Regions from separate parts of the Homo sapiens genome. Here all the other regions are linked to region 3. The links come from fine-mapping of genetic effects on gene expression. A gene starts in region 3. Each other region holds a variant in brackets. All regions are shown on one strand. Distances are from middle to middle.

What was found. PIP is the estimated chance that this variant, and not a neighbour inherited with it, causes the effect.
Region 1: its variant is the best candidate, but not a certain one, in a credible set for the expression of ANKRD28 in whole blood (TOPMed, PIP 0.57).
Region 2: its variant is the best candidate, but not a certain one, in a credible set for the expression of ANKRD28 in whole blood (TOPMed, PIP 0.83).
Region 4: its variant is the best candidate, but not a certain one, in a credible set for the expression of ANKRD28 in whole blood (INTERVAL, PIP 0.77).

What each region holds. Positions count from the first base shown.
Region 1 is chr3:15,938,295-15,943,450 of GRCh38, forward strand. LOC107986064 (a long non-coding RNA gene) reads left to right here. Exons shown (of 10, transcript XR_007095831.1): 3 at 1,216-1,304; 4 at 4,332-4,610. Among named protein-coding and RNA genes, the nearest start is that of MIR563, 67 kb to the left of the region's middle. The variant A/G (reference allele first, on the strand shown) is at 2,145.
Region 2 is chr3:15,829,528-15,834,683 of GRCh38, forward strand. It overlaps a transcript of ANKRD28 not described here. Among named protein-coding and RNA genes, the nearest start is that of ANKRD28, 34 kb to the left of the region's middle. The variant C/T (reference allele first, on the strand shown) is at 2,018.
Region 3 is chr3:15,795,215-15,800,370 of GRCh38, forward strand. ANKRD28 (ankyrin repeat domain 28) reads right to left here and starts at 2,765. Exons shown (of 28, transcript NM_001349278.2): 1 at 1,191-2,765; 2 at 9-92. The coding sequence starts at 1,307.
Region 4 is chr3:15,610,436-15,615,591 of GRCh38, forward strand. The region is part of intron 1 of BTD (biotinidase); the gene reads left to right. Among named protein-coding and RNA genes, the nearest start is that of BTD, 11 kb to the left of the region's middle. The variant TC/T (reference allele first, on the strand shown) is at 3,077.

The DNA of each region.
Region 1 (5,156 bases), 140 kb after region 3:
TGGGGAACAACCAGAAAAATTTGAACACGGACAGAATGCTAGAGAGTATTAAACCGTTGTTATTATTATTATAGGCATGATGATGGTGTTGTGGTCATATATTTTTATAGTCCTATTGTGGACTGAATATATTCCCCCAAAATTCATATATTGAAGCCTGAACCCCCATTTTGACTGTATTAGAAGAAGGACCTTTAAATAGGTTACAGGGGCTAAATGAGGACCTAATCTAGTGGGAGCAGGGTGGGGTCCTAAGTGTCCTTATAAGAAGAAGAGCCATGGGGTAGGGCACTAGCATAAAGAAAAGGCTATGTGGGGACACAGTGAAAAGGTGGCCATCTGCAAGGCAAGGAGGCTGGCCTCAGGAGAAACCAACCCTGCCGGCACCTTCATCTGGACTTCTAGCCTCTAAAAATGAGAGGAAAATATTGTCTATTGTTTTAGCCACCCAGGCTATGGTATTTGTTATGGAAGCACTAGCAAACTAAGATGAATCCTTATATACTAGAGATACCCACTGAATTATTTATGAGTGGAATAATATGATGTCTAAAGTTTTGCTTTAAAATACTCCAGAAATAAAAATTGAGGATAGCAGATAGATAAAACAAGACTGGCTAAGGTTGACAGTTATTGGAGCTGGGTAACAAGTACTTGGAGGTACATTGTACTATTATTCTCTTCTACTGTGGACTATGTTTGAAAATATTCAAATAAGTTTTAACAAATTGACATGGACAATTGTACAGGTGATTTTTATGTATATTCAAGTAGATAATTACCAAGAAAAGGTTTCCCATAATCTTGTATTCTAACCTGGGCTGCTGTGGCCTGGAATAAAATGTCACAAATATATATTTATAAATAAAACAGTCACTAAATATAATAAGGGAAAAGAATAAAAATGCCCACTGCAGACAGTGGAACTGTGGGCAAGGGGCAAGCAGTCAGAGAAGGAGGAATCAGCATTCATTGAGTGCCTAATACATACCAGGTGCTTTGTAAACATTGTCTTTGGATACTCACATAGGTTTATGAAGTAGACTTATAATTTTCAATCCTTTAAAAACATTTTAATATGAAGAAACTAAGGCCCAGGGAGGAGGAATGAATTCCTAAGATCACACACTAGGAAGTGGCTGAGCTGGGATTTTAATCCTATCTGTCTGCTTCCAAAACTTGCATTCTTTTCTCTGTACAATACCTTTTCCCTAGATATTGCCAAATATCAGATCATAAAGGACAGGAATTCTGAAGAGGATAAAATCGTAGACAGACCATTACCAAAGGAGTTGGACTTGGAGGTAAGTCCTGGAAGTGGAGAAAAGACATGCAAGCAACCTAGGAGTGGGGAGGGATGGCAAGATGCAGAAACTTGGTGGCAGGTGGAGAATGGGGTAAGAATGAGAGGCCACCACTGCAGGCTCATATTTCTTGAATGAAGGGATAGACCAGATGATCTTTCAAATCTAAAATTCTGTCAACCCTCATCTGAGCCTCTCCACTAGGATGTTCCACCTTCATCTCCAGTTCTACATTTTTAAAACTAGATTCATTACTTTCTCTCCTCCCCACCTGAAACAATTTCCTCCTGGATTCCCTCACCTGCTGATAGGATTCTCTCACCCACCTACATTTAACACCTGTCATCTTTACCAATCTTGTCCAGGCCCAAGTCTTGGGACAGCACTGGTAAAAGAATCCTGATAAAAGTTTGTGTCACTCCTTTGCTCAAAACTCTAGGAGCTCCCCTATCTGTTCCTTGAATACCTAAGCCATGTTCTGGCCTCAGAGCCTTTGCACTGGCAGTTCTCTCTACCCAGAAGGCTCTTCTGCCAGATATCCATCTTAATCTCCTTTACGACTTTATTCAGTGTCACCATCCCAATGAGACCTTCCTTGACCACCTGTTTTAAGTTGCACCTACCTGCGTCTTCCCCTGCTGCATGCCTAATCTCTTATACCATGATCTACTATTTTTCCCTCAGCACTTGTTTCTTTTTAACACACTATTTGTTTTTCTTTTCTCTTAAAAATTGTGTATCTCCCTTCATTAGAATAGAAGTCAGACAAGGGCAGGGCTTTTGTCCAATTTGTTCACTTCTCTAACCCTAAGAATTAACAACAATGCCTGGGCGCATAGA[A/G]ATTTCTCAATGAATGAATGAATCCATGTCTTATAAATGAAGTACAGCATAACATGGAAACTAATAAATAAAGATATGGATAAAGTTCTGGGGAAAAAAATGGCTGTCAGTTCTACCCACCTTGGAGTGTCAGGAAAAGTTTCACACAAGAGGTGACAATTGAGCTGAGACTTAAATGTAAGTGGGCCAAGGTAGATGGGGTAGGTGAATAATGGTCCCCAAAGAGATCAAGTCCTAATCCCTGGAGCCTGGGGTTATAGGATGTATTAGTCCATTCTCAGGCTGCTATAAGGACATACCCAAGACTGAGTAACTTATAAAGAAAAGAGGTTTAACTGACTCATAATTCTGCAAGGCTGGGGAGACTTCAGGAAACCTTACAATCATGGTGGAAGGGGAAGCAAATACATCTTTCTTCACATGGTGGCAAGAGAGTGAAATGAGAGTTGAGTAAAGGAGGAAGCCCCTTGTAAAACCATCAGATCTCATGAGAACTCACTCACTATCATGACAACAGTATGGGGGAAACTGCTGTCATGATTCAATTATGTCCACCTGGTCCCGCCCTTGACATGTGGGGATTATTACAATTCAAGATGAGATTTTGGGTGGGGATGTGTCCGGAATTTATTCCTTCTGGTGGGTTCTTGGTCTTGCTGACTTCAAGAATGAAGCCGTGGACCTTCGTGGTGAGTGTTACAGCTCTTAAAGATGGTGTGTCTGGAGTTCCTTCAGATGTTCAGATGTGTCTGGAGTTTCTTCCTTCTGGTGGGTTCGTGGTCTCGCTGACTTCAGGAATGAAGCTGCAGACCTTCACAGTGAGTGTTACAGCTCTTAAAGGTGGCATGTCCAGAGTTGCTTGTTCCTCCCGATGGGTTCATGGTCTTGCTGACTTCAGGAATGAAGCTGCAGACCCTCGTGGTGAGTGTTACAGCTCATAAAGGTAGTGCGGACACAAAGAGTGAGGAGCAGCAAGATTTATTGTGAAGAGCGAAAGAACAAAGCTTCCACGGCATGGAAGGGGACCTCAGTGGGTTGCTGCTGCTGGCTCAGGTGGCCAGCTTTTAGTCCCTTATTTGGCCCCGCCCACATCCTGCTGATTGGTCCATTTTACAGAGTGCTGATTGGTCCATTTTACAGAGTGCTGATTGGTGCATTTACAATCCTTTAGCTAGATACAGAGTGCTGATTGGTGCCTTTTTACAGAGTGCTGATTGGTGCATTTACAATCCTTTAGCTAGACACAGAATGCTGATTGGTGCATTTTTACAGAGTGCTGATTGGTGGATTTACAATCCTTTAGCTAGACACAGAGCGCTGATTGGTGTGTTTTTAGAGTGCTGATTGGTGCATTTACAATCCTTTAGCTAGACACAGAGTGCTGATTGGTGCATTTACAATCCTCTAGCTAGACAGAAAAGTTCTCCAAGTCCCCACCTGACCCAGAAGCCCAGCTGGCTTCACCTCTCAGGGACACAGCCAAACCATACAATGTGGCAAAAGAGACTTAACAGATGTGACTAAGCTAAGTATCTTGAGATGGAAATATTATTCTGTATTATTCAGCGGGACCATAAATGGAATCATAAGTATTCTTATAAGGGAGAGGCAAAGGTAGATTTAGCAGCAGCAGCATAAGCAGAAGTTGATGTGACACTAGAGCAAGATGCTGTGCTGCTGGCTTTAAAGATGGAAGAAGGAGTCATGAGCCAAAGAATGCAAATAATGTGGCTCTAGAAGCTGGAAAGGGCAAGAAAACAGATTCTTCCCTTCAGCTTGTGGAGGGAGCACAGCCCTGCTGACACCTTGATTTCAGCTCAGTAAAACTGATTTTGGACTCTGACCTCCAGGAATTGTAAAAGAATAAATGTGCATTGTTTTAAGCCACCAAGTTTGTGGTAATTTGTTACAGCAACCATTAAAAACTAATACAGAAGGTGAGGGCATCCTATTAGGAGGGAATAGTATGTACAAATTGTGAAAGTGACAGCATTTTCAAGACACCCCTGGGAAACTTAATGTACTTGGGTTAAGCAGTAGGGAGTAGAGAAAGGTGGGGTTGGAGATGTGGCAGGAGCTAGATTGTGAAGGGCCTTGCATGTCATGTAGAAGAGTTGGGTGGTATTCTATTGGTATAGGGAAATGTAATGACCTTCAGTCCTGAATGGCATATTTTCCTGGCTGCAGGGAGTGCTGCTGGCAGATGGCCCTTACTTGCAACTCTCTTCTGGAATCTCTTTTTTATGCATGCAGCTGTCTATCCCAAGCTCATACCAGCTTCCTGGGGCAACCAATGAGTGGTCTACACAGAAGTATACTCTGTCATTTCACTCCAATTCAGAAGAACTCTGAAGGGCCATCCCAACTTCAGAGCTTCCCAGGAGGTTAGCTAAAGCTTTGTTGTGATGACTTTGGAGCTCAACTTCCCTGTGTGTCCAATCCTGCCTTCTTCTCTCTCTTCTACAGGTATTAATCCCAACAGCCCTCCCTAATAAACATCCTGCCTGCTAGTCTTTGTCTCATTCAGCCTCCTTGGGAACTCACCCTGCCAATAGGGGTTAAATGGTCTTTAAGTAAGAGAATGAAAGGTAAGATTGGTTTGGGTGGTGATAACTCAGATCAGTGTGAGGACGCGCTAGGCTGGGGAGAGACTGGAGGAGAGATCAGTTAGGAAACTGGAGCAAGATTCCAGGTGAGAGATGATGAAATCCTGGGCAAAGGTAGAGGCAAAAGCAACTCTAGGCATGGTTGTCAGCTTTCCTGTGAACAGCCTCTTGAAGCCTAGTCCATAGCATGTTAACTAAAAGTTCTTCCTCATAGGCAACACAAGGGAAAATAGACAAATTAGATTATATCAAACTAAAAAACTTCTGCACAACAAAAGAAAGAATCAATTGGGTGAAGAGACAACCTATGGAGTGGGAGAAAATTGGAAACCCATTCGATAAAGGGTTAATATCCAAAATATATTAGGAGCCCAAACAACTCAATAGCAAGAAAACAACCTGATTT
Region 2 (5,156 bases), 34 kb after region 3:
AACTTTGAATGGATCTTTTTTAACCCATGTGTCATTTTACAATATCATATATCAGTAATTTGGAAAATGCTGGTTCACTGGTTTACGAAGGTCTTCAATTACTGACACGTTTCATGATATACAATATCAAAAGTCATATTTATTAATATTACTACCAAAGCCACCACAAAACATCTTTAAGCTCTGTAAAGGTAGCAAGCTCAAGGTGGCCGATACAGATTTACTCAAATTCTAATTTTGCTTGGAAGCTCAAATTTCATCATCTGTAACAAATATTGACAGTGGCTTTCCTTGAAGTGACAAGTTCACTTTGTTCCTTTTCAAGGAATATTTTCAATAAAAGGTTTGCCAAAGAGCCAAATCTGAATAACCATAATGTTAGTTGTTTTTTCAAGTAAAAAGGTATTCTATTAAAAAAAAAAAAAAGTCTAGTCCAGCTAGCAACTCAATCACATAAGCATTTTTCCTGTGCAGCATATACTCATTTTATCATACAGACACCCCAGGGTGAAGTGTAATGTAAGTAATTTATACTTAAAAACAATCTTAAGGGAAATAGGCTTTTCCCTCCCCTTAACTGTAAGCAAGGCAGTGAAAAACACAGTCTGGTGCCACTAACTTGATTCCTAATACATCAGCAGTAAGTACTATTACTTTTGTACCATTAATGCGAATGTCGAAGTAAAAAACGCATATAACATTTTATTATTATGATAACAGTTTTGACTTTAGGGACTCCCAGGGGTTCATGGACCACACTATGAGAAGTCTCTTAGACCAGGGTCCCTAACCCCTGGACTGAGGACTGCTAGCCATTCATGGCCTGTCAGAAACTGGGCTGGATAGCAGGAGGTGAGCAGCGGGCAAGCAAGCATTACCACCTCAACTCTGACTCCTGTCAGAGTAGCGCAGCATTAGATTCTCATAGGACTGCCAATCCTATTTTGAATTGCACATCTGAGGGATCTAGGTTATGTGCTTTTTACAACACTCTAACTAATGCCTGATGATCTGAGGTGGAACAGTTTCATCTCAAAACCATCCCACCCCCCACCGCACCCCCATCCACGGAAAAATTGTCTTCCACGAAACTGGTCCCTGGTGCCAAAAACACTGGGGACTGCTGCAGTAATGGATTAATTTTGGCCAAAGAAAGGTTTGGCCCTTGCTCAGCTCCTAGGAGGTAACTGCTAACCCCTTGGAATGTCCTGCTTGATAAAGAGTCGTTGTTTACCTGGGGGCTTTGGTCCATGACAGATAGTCTAACAATATGATTCTTGGTGGGACCTTTAAGTCACGGAGTATCAGCTTGACCTCTGGAGGGGATGGAGACTAACATCAGCCACAGGTGTGGTCAACCATACCTATGTGACTGACTTCTCAATAAAAACTCTGGACAGCAAACCTCACGTGGGTGGCCTTGGTTGGCAATACTCCTTGCGTGTCACCATATATTGTTGCTGGGAAAAGTAAGCACTGTCTGCACAACCCCATTAGGAGAGGACATCTGGAAGTTCACGCCTGAAACTCTCCTGGACCTCTGTCCTATGCACCTTTACCCACTGTTGGTTTTAATCCGTATTCTTTTGATGTAATAAACCATACCATTAATTTAACTGCTTTGCTGAGTTCTGTGAGTCTTTCTAAGCAAATTATCAAATCTGAGAGTGCACAATCTCCCACAAACTAAACAAGCTGGTCAAGATCAAACTCCTGAGTATATATAACAAAAGCCAATCCCCACCTACATGTTTCTCTACACAAGACACTGTTTTGCCCAAGACCAAAAACTATTGTGCATATGTGCACAGATCCAAATTGCACTGCCAAACTCCACATAACTACCAGCCCCTTCTCCAAGCAGCTTGTTTTAGAGCAGGGATTCTCACCAAATGATTCTTTGTTATAGAGGAACGTCCTGTCCACAGTAGGATGTTTAGCAGCATCCCTGGCCTCTGTCCAATAGGTGCCAATAGTATCCTTCCCTCCTTCCCAGTGGTAACAACAAAAAATGTCT[C/T]CAGACACTGTCAAATTCCCCTGAGGAGAAAAATCGCTCTCCCCTCAATATTGAAAATCACTGTTTCAGGAAACTCACCTAGGTAGTCTGACCTTGCCTTATCTTTTACAAAAAAAGGGAATAAATTCACTTTTAGCTCTACCTTCCTGCCTTTCCTAATGTTAATTATTTGATGATGGAAAGCAATTGCACATTCTGAGTTCTACCTTCAAAAAATATCTGGATAGAAGTGGTGAACTAAAAACTCTTCCTTCTGGGGAACTCAGTCAGATTACCAATTTCAAGAGAAGGAGAAGCCTCTAACAATGATCTTTAAATAAGGATACATATATATTTTCTGTATCTTATGCACACCACAGAGGGAAGATAGACTAGTTTTCTTCAACCTTGGGAGTATACATCAAAATAACCCCCAGTAGTTTTTAAAAATATAGGTGCCAGGGTCCTATCTCAGACACACTTAATCAGAATTCATTATTTATCCAGCAATTGAGTGTCCACTATATGCCAAAGCATTGTTACAGGTGCTGGAGACACAGCAGTAAATAAAAGACATCGTATTTGCCCTTGAAGAACTCACATTCCAGTAGAGTGAGACATTTCATAAACATATAGACAAATAAGATCACTTCAGATAGTGCTACAGGGAAATAAATAGAATAAAGGAAGAAATTTCTCTGCATTCTCAGCAATATCTGCAGAAATACATTCAAAGTTAAATGTGGTAAGTGAAAATATTATTTTGCATTTTATTATTTAGAAAGCCTGTGACATAATTACATACCTACATTTAAAATTCCTTATGTGTAGGGGTGCTGAGCAAAAGTGTCTCTCCCTACTCTTTGGGAATCTTTAAGCTCAAGATTAGGTAAATTCCCTCCCAGTTTCAATTCTAATTTCCATCAGTTCAATGAAAACATTATGCTAAATTTTAAAAATAAATTTAGGGGATACACTGCAGATTTCTTACATGCACTTACTGCATTGTGATGAAGTGCGCTTTTAGTGTAGAGATCACCTAAATAGTGAACACTGTATCCAACAGGTGATTTTTCAACCCTTGCCCACCTCCCACCTTTTGTAGTTTCTAATATCTGTTATCCCCTTGGTATGTCCCATATACCCTTGTTTAGCTCCCATTTAGAAGTGAGAACATGCAGTATTTGACTATGTTTCCAAGTTATTTCACGGAGGATAATGGGCTCCAATTCCATCCATGTTTGCTGCAAAAGACATGATTTCATTCTTTATACATATACACCACATTTTCTTTATCCAATCTTCTGTTGATGGATATTTAGGCTGATTCCACGTATATGCTACGGTGAATAGCGCTGCAATAAACATACCAGTGTAGATACCTTTTTGACATGATTTCTTTCCCTTAGGGTATATTCACAGTAGTGGGACTGCAGAATCAAATGGTATCACTATTTTTAGTTCTTTGAGAAATCTCCATACTATTTTCCATAAGGATTTTACTAACTTACATTCCCACCAATAGTGTATAGTGTATAAGCATTCCCTTTTCTTCACACCTGTGATGGTTAAAACTGAGTGTCAACTTGATTGGATTGAAGGATGCAAAGTATTGATCCAGGGTGTGTCTGTGAGGGTGCTGCCAAAGGAGATTAACATTTAAGTCAGTGGGCTGGGAAAGGCGGATCTACCCTTAATCTGAGTAGGCACCATCTAATCAGCTGTCAGCACAGCTGGAATATGAAGTAGGCAGAAAAACGTGAAAAGACTAGACTGGTGTAGCCTCCCATCCTACATCTTTCTCCTGTGCTGGATACTTCCTGCCCTCAAGCATTGGACTCCAAGTTATTCAGTTTTGGGGCTCGGACTGGCTATCCTTGCTCCTCAGCTGGCAGATGCCCTACTGTGGGACCTTGTGATCATGTGAGTTAATACTTAAACTCCCCTTCATATATATATAATATATAAAAATATACTACATATTATGTACTATATATATATAAAATATATACATTATTTTTTATATATATAATGTGTGTGTGTATATATATATCTCCTATTAGTTCTGTCCCTCTAGAGAACCCTAATACAGCACCCTTGGCAACATCTGTTGTTTTTTTGACCTTTTAATAGTAACTAACCATTCTGACTCATATAAGATGGTTTTAACCCATTTATGCTGGAAGCTGCAATTATGAGTGAAAAATCAGAACTTGGCAATGACCTTGAGCAGTAGGATATAAATAACTCCCACATGCTTAGTGTTCCAATAATGGAACACTAGGCATAAGTGGATTAATTTGTATTTCTTTTATGACTAATGATGTTGAGGATTTTTTCATGTTTTTTGGCCACTTGTATGTCTTCTTTTGGAAAATGTCTGTTTGTGTTATTTGCCCATTTTTTAATGTTTGTTTTTTTCTTAAGTTCCTTGTAGATTCTGGATATTAGCCTTTTGTCAGATGCAGTTTTCACATTTTGCACATATTTTTTCCCCTTTCTGTAGGTTGTATGTTTACTCTGTTCACTGTTTCTTTTACTGTGTGAAAGCTTTTTTAAAATTGTCTCATTTGTGTATTTTTGTTTTTGAGGACTTGGTTATAAATTATTTGCCTAGACCAATGTCCAGAATTTTTCTCAGGTTTTCTTCAGTATTTTTATAGTTTCAGGTCTTATGTTTAGCTCTTTAATCCATCTTGAGTTAATCTTTGTATATGGTGAGAGGCATGGGTCCAGTTTCATTCTTCTACATATAGCTATCCAATTTTCCCAGACCCATTTACTGAATCGAGTGTCCTTTCCCCAGTGTATATTCTTGTTGATGATTAGCTGGTTGTAGGTATGTGGCTTTATTTCTGGGTTCCCTATTTTGTTCCAGTAATATATATATCTATTTTTATGCCAGTACCATGTTGTGTTGGTTACTATAGTCTTGCAGTATATTTTGAAGTCAGATAATGTGATGCCTCCACGTGCTCTTGAACATGGGAGAGTTTAATGATTTTATTAACAAGAATAAAAAGAGCTCCTGAAGAAGTCAATCAAAGGGGAAAAAATCCACTGAAAAGCTAATCATCATAAGGATTGTTTACAACAGAATCTGGCAAGACTGGAGAAGGGGACATTTTTCTCCTTTCATTTCATACTTCTATGAAAAACT
Region 3 (5,156 bases):
TGTTTTACCTGAAAGTTAACATCTTCTTTCTTAAATATTAGTGCTCGAACTTCATCAGGATCTCCGTTAAATATAGCTTGCACCAGTGATGGCTAAAATAGAAGAGAGTAATAAAAACATTAGAATCATCCATGTGGGGTGACTAAGGATATTTTACATAGTTCTGGAATCTACAAGTTTTCTTCCCTGTAGCAATAATCACTTTTGACATTAGCCAGAAGTTTCATAAAACCAAATCATGTCAAAGTACAGGATTCCTACTTGGAAAAAAAAGGCCTAATTAAAAAAAAAAATCAATTCAGTTTGACCCAATTTAGGTAGTATAATAAACAAAATCAGATTTTATTTCTTGTAAGTAGAAGCCTTTTGTTTCTGTATATGACAAAAAGAAAGACTCTTCCAAATACAAATGTGTGATCTCAACATCTACTTGTGGGACAGAACTTTTTAAGCAATTTCCAGCCCATGAAGGAAGGCTTTTTTGAAAAGGTCTGTTTGGGGCATCAAATTATCTTACATGGATTAGCATTACATGTATAAAGATACAAATCCCAAGAAAGCAAACCTGGCAGTTGATGAAAATAGCCACTAATCAAAGACCAAAAAATACTGGATACTTAAATAACTTGAAAAGACAAACACATGCATAACTAAATATAATAATTTCTTAATCAACGATACAGCCTCTTGATAAGGTATACTATACTAGTCAAGGAGCCAGCTGACAGTAGCACTAAAACCAAGGTTAAAGATGAAGACTGAATCTCATATAAAGTCTTATATGTAAATACATAAAATTCATTACAGAAAAGGCCATGCCTTAGTGTTGCTGGGGGTAGTCAACCTTTCCTAAAATATGCAGAGTTCCTGATTCTTGTTACATCAGTTTCTGAAACCACAAAATGAAAACAGAAACGTGGTTGCCATAACTACTAATTCTCAAATTATTTTTAAACAGTCTTTTAAAGAGATTAAGACATAGTAAAGACTGAAATGTTATCTCAGCATTCAAAAAAGTAAAAACGAAAAATGTGCATTTTATACAAAAATACTGCATCATATCTACACACGTATTGCTTTAATTTGGGTTTGTAAAGAAACTATTGGAAATTTACATCTATTCTTAAAAAACAAGATTTATACTACTAGTTCAGTAGAATATAGTAAACATATAAACTTACATATCTTACCAATACATTTCCAGAAGGTGGAGAATGTAGGGATTTATTTTCCTGTGGCAATTTAGAAATGAATGCAGGAGATTCATCTTCTACCTCCTCCAAAACAACAATACACACTCGACTCATTCGATCTTTTAAAACACTAAATTCCAAGCTATGTGATAAAAGTCACAGTTGGAAGAGCACAAGTAGTTTTTCCTCCTCTTCTGTACAACACTTACAAACATTCTCTGAACAGCACAGCTGGGTTTTTTTTTTTTTTAAAGTTAATAAGTACTACTGGAAAAACAAGTTTAAAATTATGACTACATAATTTGTAACTTCCTAAATATAACGAAATTCTATTATTTCTGTTGGATTACTGCAATACTTAAGAAGAAATTTCACACCAACATGTCAATAACTAAAACTGAGTCCAAGCTCATTTAAAAATATTTTTCCTCTACCAAAATAGTCTTATTGCTCTATCTCTGAAATTTACTTGCACAAAACAATCATTGTTTTTGGTGACACAACACCACACAATATAGAATGAAATGAGAAACAACTGCTGTGACAGAGATGATCACAGCGATACCCACTCTTGCCTGCAAGGTCATATAGTTACCAGTAGCTGTTTTGCTTATAATTGAAAATAAAAAATAAAATCTCACTATTCTGTTTCCACTTCTAATTTGTCTTCATTTCTTCATCACTGGTTTAATGCAGATACTATTCACAGAAAAAAGATCTAGAGCTCAGCACAAATCCTGAAAATGAAGCTCAGAGGTTAACAATTCTTTCAGTGTTTGGGAAAGGGGCAAAAAACAAAAACAAAAAAAAAAAAACCACTCTGCATTAATAGCAAAGCTGCAGTACGTTTACATGTGATGAGTCAGACCACAAGAGACAATACGACTCTTGGTACTAGAATACAGCTTGATTAATCCAGGTTTCCCATATAATAGAAGAAACACAGTTAGCTTTATTCCCATCGATAGCATAAGCAAGGCAGAGCGTTCATTCTTTCTCCATCAGGCAGTTGTCTGTGGCTGCTCCAGCAAAAGGGCACAGGCACCAGGCAGAAATGGTGTTAGTGGAGAATCCTAGTAGAACAAGCAGGCTGTGAAGGAATTAGAAGGCATTTGAGCTCAAATTACTGCTTCAGGCTTTTTGTTTTCTTTAAAAAAAAAAAGGGGGGGGAAAAACATAGTAGTGTATCATTCCAGTGTTTCCTTTGATCTCCACATGAATACAGCTTCCATTAAACAGTCTTCATTCAGAGAAAAAAATAGCAGACTGTGCATCTTCTTTGAGCCAACTACTTTATTCAGTCATCTGCCTCTTTGCCAATATAGTTTCCTTCCACTGTGAAAACCGCCACAGTTATCCTTTTCAGATTTCAAATGCTTTCCTGTTCCTCAGATGATCTTGCAAAACACCACTGACATCCCCAAATGAGTAGGTCCTTAAAAAATATCTATAGAACCTCAGTATCAGTCCCACAGAAGCATTCCAACGGAGCAACAGTCTGAAGAGCAAAGACTGCAGACCCACAGGATGAAATGCCTAGTAATGCTCACATGTTACACTTACCAGAGATCTGAGCTACTTCTCGGGATGTAACTTCCTCTAGCAGGAGAAAAAAATAGTGCATTTGGACAGCCTTCACAATTAGAAGGTTCATGCCAGTTCTGTGACTAATCCAAATCAAACTAAAAAATTCTATAACTGAAAAATGAGTGCGCTTTTAACATTTTCCACTAAAAGCCACAAGGAAATCTGGTGTACTGCCTCTGCTGACTAACAGTGGTTTTAGCAAGTAAACAATTCCAAACGGCTTAACTGCTTTCGTGTGTTACAATAAAGCAAATGTTTAACCCTATAATGACAGTTGCAGTAAGAATATGCCTGCAATGGACTCATAAAAAAGGTTTAAAGATGGAGAAATATTTTATTAGATTATAAAAACCATGAAATTGTTTTATTCATATTTTTACCAAGATCAGTTTTAATCTGCCAGGTGTATTTTATTTTCTAGAATGCAAAGCTTAAACAAATGAAATTTAAGATTGTCTAACAATTTCTAAATTGGTGAATTTAATCAATCATTGATTCATATTTTAAAGGGAAAAGCAAAAATTTCATAATGTAGAAATCCTAACTCTAAAATTATATAAATCATTTGATTTTTCACTGAAGAAATAAAATAATCCTACCTTCCCATTTGGATAGGGAATAAAGCCTTAAAAATCTGTTAAAGAGGTACATGAAAAAAAAAATGTCCTTCGTCCTGAATTACCTATGTCAAAAGGGCACAGGGTAATACAAATAATCTCCCTCCCTATAAATTTCCCAAAGCCATAAATAAATGTCAAAGCCAATCATTTCATCGTTTTTTTTCTTCTTTCTCTGTTTACCCAACATGGGGGATATTTCTCAAGAGAAAACTTACAAAGAAAATACCATGGTCCCCCTTCAATCTGTGTTCTTCATATTAACTAGCATTTTTATTAATAAACAATAATAAACATAATAGTTACTTTTGAACATCTGTGATATGCTATGTGCTGTACATTCTCATTTAATACAATAACCTTGCTGTATTCCCATTATAGAGGGAAAAACAGACTCAGAAATGATGTATTTTACCCAAAGTTGTATAAATTAATAAAGTTGTGTGTTATTTTAAACACATACTCTTTCTAATCTATTCTGCTATCACTGAGTACACACACATACAGACACACTCTCTTCTCTCCACTCATCTCCAGATCTTTGCAACCTGTAATACTAGCTTATAAAAGTGATCTTAACAAACAGGTAACCTATAAAGGTTGTGAAAAGTTTAGGTAACAAAGGAATATACTATTTATTGCTATATTCTAAAACGAGTTATTTTTAAATGGGTACTTCAAAGCAAGTCTTAAAACCATAAAAAGGAAAAAAAAAACAAAAAATCCCAGCATGATACAAATATAAGAATGTCAGAATTTAAAACAAGAACCATTGAAAGCTATAAAATGTATCAATCTATGGAAGAAGCAATAACTCTAACATATTTGTACCAATTAAAACATGCTAACAATTCATTAGTTATATTTTAAAATATATAAAATACTTTTATGCCAAATTAAAGGTATGTAAATATTGAACATACATCAATTATGTTATCCATCTCCACATAGCTGAATCAAAAAATCTTAATATTTGAAATATCTGAAAGTGAAACAACTATAGTAACAATATCCTATATTTCATCTTCAGGGTTCCCAAGCCCACAAAGCAAAATCTCTTTTTATCTTAACAATCTTAACTTGTTCCAAAGTATCTAGTACCTAAGTTCACCTACTTAGACTTAAGCAGGTACATCCTGTTTCTTGTTCTAAGTCAACCTCCACACTTAGGTCTTTCCCAACCAGAAAACAAACTCCTTGAAGGTAGGGACTGTGTTCATACATATTGTCTCCTTCCACTTTCTTCCACCTATAAATAATTTCATTGAAATGAATTCTGTCGTCACGAGACTCTGGAAGGGTGGAGATTTATAAACAAGAATAGTGGGGGTGTGTTGGTATACATATATTTTAACCAGAAAATATAGGTGGCATTAAGGTGCAACAAAGTGAGTTTCATATCTCTAATAAGTGAACAATTAAAATTTCAGAAGTTGACAGGATATAAAACAAAGGTATGGGGTGATGGTTAAAACTAAGGGCTCAGGAGTCAGCCCACCTGAAGTTCAATTCTGCTTCCATCATTTCCTAGCTGTGTCCTTGGACAAACCACTTAAATTCCCTAAGCCTAAATTTCTTGACACTTATATAAGAAAAAAATAACCTGCAAAGATTTTTGTCTAAGAGAAATAGAGTAACAGTACAGTGCTTGAGAATGTAGGCTATTTTGTGGTCAAATTGCCTGAAGTTCTAATCCAGGCTTCCCACTAACCTAATTCTGGGATCCTGGGCTACTCACTTATTTAGTAACCTCTCTGTG
Region 4 (5,156 bases), 180 kb before region 3:
TGATAATGGAACATGGATACAGAGAGGGGAGAAATTGCTGGCCTTTTTTATAGTCAATTTACCATAACATCCAGTTGTCCAAGCACCATTCATAATATAGTTCATTCTCATCCCAGTGATACATAATTTCCCCTCTGTGGAATGTCAAGCTCGCATATTTATGGGAGTATTTCTGTACTCTCTGTTCTTTTCCTATCCTAACACCAATCCCACACTATCTTAATTTCTGTGTTTTTAAAATAAGTCTTGATGTTGGTAGGACAAGTAGTCCCTGGACTTCATTCTTTTGAAGCCATCTTGTTTATTATATTAATTTTAAGCAACTAGAGGGGATGGAAGAGGAACCTTTAGATTAAAAGAGATTTAAAAGATAGGGTATTTTTTAATGGACAAGACTAAACTACAGTGTCTAGGGATGCACATTGGGTGATAAAGCTATTTTAAAAAACAAAGAAGTGATGAGTATAAAAGTCAGGGTCATGGTTACTTGATCCCTCATGGGTAATGTTGTCAGATTTAGAAAAAAAAAAAAAAACAGGACTCCAAAACTCCCAGTTGAATTTGAACTTTAGATGAACAATGCATAATTTTTTTTAGCGTAAGTATGTTCCAACATATTTATCTGAAAGTTAAATTTAACTGGGCCACCTGTATTTTACCTGGAAAAATCCTGATTTTATTCAAGGTGATAATGCAGTTTACATTGCCCAGCCTTCCTTGTAGCTAGGAGTGGTCACGCGTCCACACATGGGCCAAAGCAATTTAAATAGGAGTCACTGGGCAGGGCTTTTAGGAAAGCTGATGAAACTGGCAAGTACCCTCTGTACTCTTCCTCTGTACAACATGATAATTGGAGTTGTAGAAGTCATTTTGGAACCACAAGATGACTCTGAAAATGGAAGCTACATGCCAAGAAGTTAGGCCCAGAAAGAGAGGGATCCTGGGTCCTACATGACTCTTGCCTTTGTCAGGTTTTATTATCAGATTTTTATCACTTCATAAGAAAAAAATGCCTTCTTTTACTATATTCTCACACACATTGAGTAGCATTAGGATTATTTTTTCCTTTATAGTTAGAAAGAATTCTTCTAGAAACTATTTGGGCCTGTTTTGAGGGTGGAGAATGGGAGGGAATGATTGTTTGATAACTATTTCTTCTATGATTGTTGGCATGGTTTAGTTTTTTCTTTTATCCGAAGTTTTGGTAAAAATATATTTTTCAGTCCCAGCTACTCTGGAGGCTGAGGCACAAGGATTGCTTGAATCCAGGAGGCAGAGGTTGCAATGAGCTGAGATTGCACCACTGCACTCCAACCTGGGTGATGGCGTGAGACAGTCTCAAAAAAAAAAAAGAAAAAACAAATAATGTATTTTTTTTCTAGGAAACTACTCGTCTAAATTTTCTAGCTTATCAATATAGGATTGAATGAGGTGATTATTCTTTTTTAAAAAAAATTCTTCTGCATTTATAGATTTCTCTTTGTTTTGTATATTTGTTTCTCTTTTTTTTCTTAATTAGGCTAGCCGATCATTTGTCTTTACCTTTTTTTTTCTCTAAACAACAACTCCTTGGACATACTTATTCATTCTGTCATTTTTCTGTTTTCTAATTTAATTTCCACTCTTATTTTTATTTCCTTCCTTTTGCTTTCTTGAGCATGCCATTACTCTTTTCCTCACTGTTACCACCTTTTGTTAGTTTTACAATTTCTACATTGCCAGAGTTAATAACATTTGCACTGTGTTCTATAAATATAATCCTCATGTTTATTTTACATTCAAGGCTCTTGCCAGTTTTTCCATTCACCTCTTAATTGGCCGAAGATTACCCTCTATGCATTTTTTCAAAGAAGGCTGATGAGACTGATGAGAATAATAGTCCCTGAGTTCTTATATTTTCATACCTATTATCTGGTTTTTTTCTTTACTTCAACCATAGGTTGGCATAATATATAATTTCTGGCTTATATTTTATTTTCTGGAAGGATTCTATAGGCTTTTACTGGCATTGATGTTATTGTAGTAAAGTCTGAGGACAGCCTGATTATTTTGCCCCTAATAAATACCCTTGATCTTTTTATTTAGCTTCCCAAATGATTCTTACTTTATCTTTGAAGATCAAGAATTTTGCTAGGCTATCTGCCGATGTTGATGTTCTGTTCCTTTCTTTCTTGAGTTTTGCTATCTCTTTTCAAGCTATAAATTGAAATATGCTTTTATTTCTGGTGAGTTTTCTTCAATTACATCTTTAATTTTTTTTTTTTTTGCTTCATTATATGTTGTCTATTGTTGTATAAAAATTTACCCTACGACCTATTCAGCAGCTTAAAACAAGACCCATTTATTATCTCAAAGTCTCTATGTGTCAGGAGTCTGAGCATAGTTTTACTGGATCCTCTGGTCAGCATCTCACAAGGCTACAGTGAAGTTGTCAGCTGACCTCATGGTCTCATCTGAGGCTGAGTTTTCTTCCAAATTCAACTGATCGTTGAAAGAATGAATTTCCTTGCAGTTGTAGTATTCATGGTGGCTTGCTTCTTCAAGGTCAGCCGGGGAGAGAGTGTGTCTGAAATCTTGGAGCACCCCAGTTCTTTTTTTAAAGACCTGATTAATTCAGACCCACCAGGGTAATCTCTTTTGATTAACTAGATTAACTGGCTTGGGATTTTAACTACATATGTGAAAGCCCTTCACCTTTGTCATATTCTATTGGCTAGTAACAGAGTACAATTTCCACCTGCACTCAAGAAAAGAGGATTATACAAGGAGTCACCTTAGGGTGTGTCCACCACACATTATTTTTTTCTTTTATGCATTTTCCAATTATGCATATGATGGATCTCGTTCACTGTTCTCCCTGTCTATCATTTTCTGTGGACTCCTTTTCAATTCTGTATTTCCATTCATGTTGCTTATTTATTTACAGCATCATCTGATTTCTTTTGCTGCTTCTATCTTTGCCATAATTTCTTGATGTTTTAATTTTTTCTTCTGCTTCTTTCCTGAGCCCTGCCAGATAATATTTCATCTGTCTCCCAGCTTTCTATTCCCCACTCCCTTCTCCCTTCTCTCTTCT[TC/T]CCTCTTCCCCCTCCTTACCTTCTCCTCTTCTCCTCCTTTCCTCCCCTTCTCCCCTTTTTCCCTTTCATCTTTTAATTCTCTTGGTCTATTTTGTGCTTTTATTTAATATAAGCAGTTTTTTTTCACTCGTGGCAGAATGTTTTGTCACAGTTTTTATTTGTGTTGTGGCAATTTTCTGGGGTATAACCTTTGTTTTCGTATAGTATCTTTCAAAAGATCTTGAGCTTTTTATTTACTCATTTTTGAGTGAGTTTTTCCTCTACTGTAGGAGGTTTATGTGTGAACAAGGCCATTCTGGTTCACAGTTATTTTTTCTTAGCACATTTAAGATTTTGTTTTCTTACTTCTATTGTTACTCTTGAAAAGTCTGCTGTTTTCAAATCACCATATCTTTGAAGGCAATCTCTCTTCCCTCTGGTTGCGTCTAAGATTTTTTTCTTCTTCAAATATTTCGTGTTCTGGTTTCTTTATGTTGTGTATAGATTTCTTTTTGGTTGTCTTGAATCTATGGATTTCTGTATTTTATTATTAAAATTCTCACCTATTATACCTTCAAACATGTGTAATGTGTCATGTGTCATTTTATGTATTTTCTCCCTCTTTCTTTCTTTCTTTTTTTTTTTTTTTTAAGTCAAGGTCTTGCTCTGTCGCCCAAGCTGGAGTACAGTGGCACAGCCGTAGCCCACTGCAGCCTTAAACTCCTGGGCTCAAGCAATCCTACCACCTCAGCCTCTTGAGATGCTGGGACCGCAGGTGTACACCACCATGCCCAGCTAATACTTTTTTACTTTTTGTAGAGATTATATTGCCCAGGCTGGTCTTGAATTCCTGGCCTCAAGTGATCCTCTCATCTTGACCTCCAAAGTGTTGGGATTACAGGCATGAGCCATTGCACCCAGCCTCTATTTTCTCCTTCTGAAATTCCAATTAGAAATATCATGGAACATCATATATGTCTTCCATGTCTCATCTTCTTTTTTTCCCTTTTGTCATCTCTGTGGTACATTCTAAACAAATTTTTTAATGATTCTAACGGCCATGCCACAAAATGTCTCCATTTGGTTTTATTTGACAATATCTTTTTCTTTTTTTTTTTTTTTTTGACACAGAGTCTCTCTCTATTACCCAGGCTAGAGTGTAGTGGTGTGATCTTAGCTCACTGCCACCTCCGCCTCTGAGCTCAAGCAATCGCCCTACCTTAGCCACCCAAGTAGCTGGGACTACAGGCATGCACCACCACACACAGCTAATTTTTGTATTTTTTGTAGAGATGGGGTTTTGCCATGTTGCCCATGCTGGCCTCCAACTCCTGGGCTCAAGTTATCTTCCTGCCTTGGCCTTCCAAAGTGCTGGGATTACAGGCATGAGCCACCACTCCCAGCCAACAATATCTTATTCTTTTACCTGTTTTAGAGTCCTCTGAGTACTTCTTTAATCAACTTCAGTGTACTTATTTGAAAATTTTCACTAGTAATCCTTCCATCTGAAGTTGTTGGGGGCCTGATTTTGCTGTATTCTTTAACTTTCTTGCATAATATTTGCTTCCTTGTGTGTTTTGTAATTTTGAATTTTGAGCTCTTGTTTACCTTGTTCTTCAACCCAGGACACTCAGTCTTCAAGAAGAGAGTATGTGGATAGGCTTTTCCAGGCATCTTAGGACTGATAACATCTCAAAATCACTTTGTGCTCATTTCTTGGCATAGAGTTACCTGGGTCATGTATGTTGTGAGTTTTTGAATCATGAACCCACATAAGGAAAACCTTTGATTATGTTGGTTATGACTTTCAAGGAGTACTATTTTCCCCTGCTCAGAGCCCAAGATGAGATGTACAAGTTTCTACGTCAGATAGTTACTTTGGCAGGCAGGCAGATATTTGTTTTTGTCCATCCTTTCAATAAAGGAATCATTCCTTAAGGTTCCTAGCTATATGCACAGATCTCACTCCAACCTCCACATCTTGTCTTTCTGTCCTTCATGGTCTTTAAAATCTAAACCCCTTGGATATCAAGATTGGGACATGTTCCAGTATCACCTCACCACTCCAGTTTTCAGTTACTTGATTTTAGTTTTTATTTT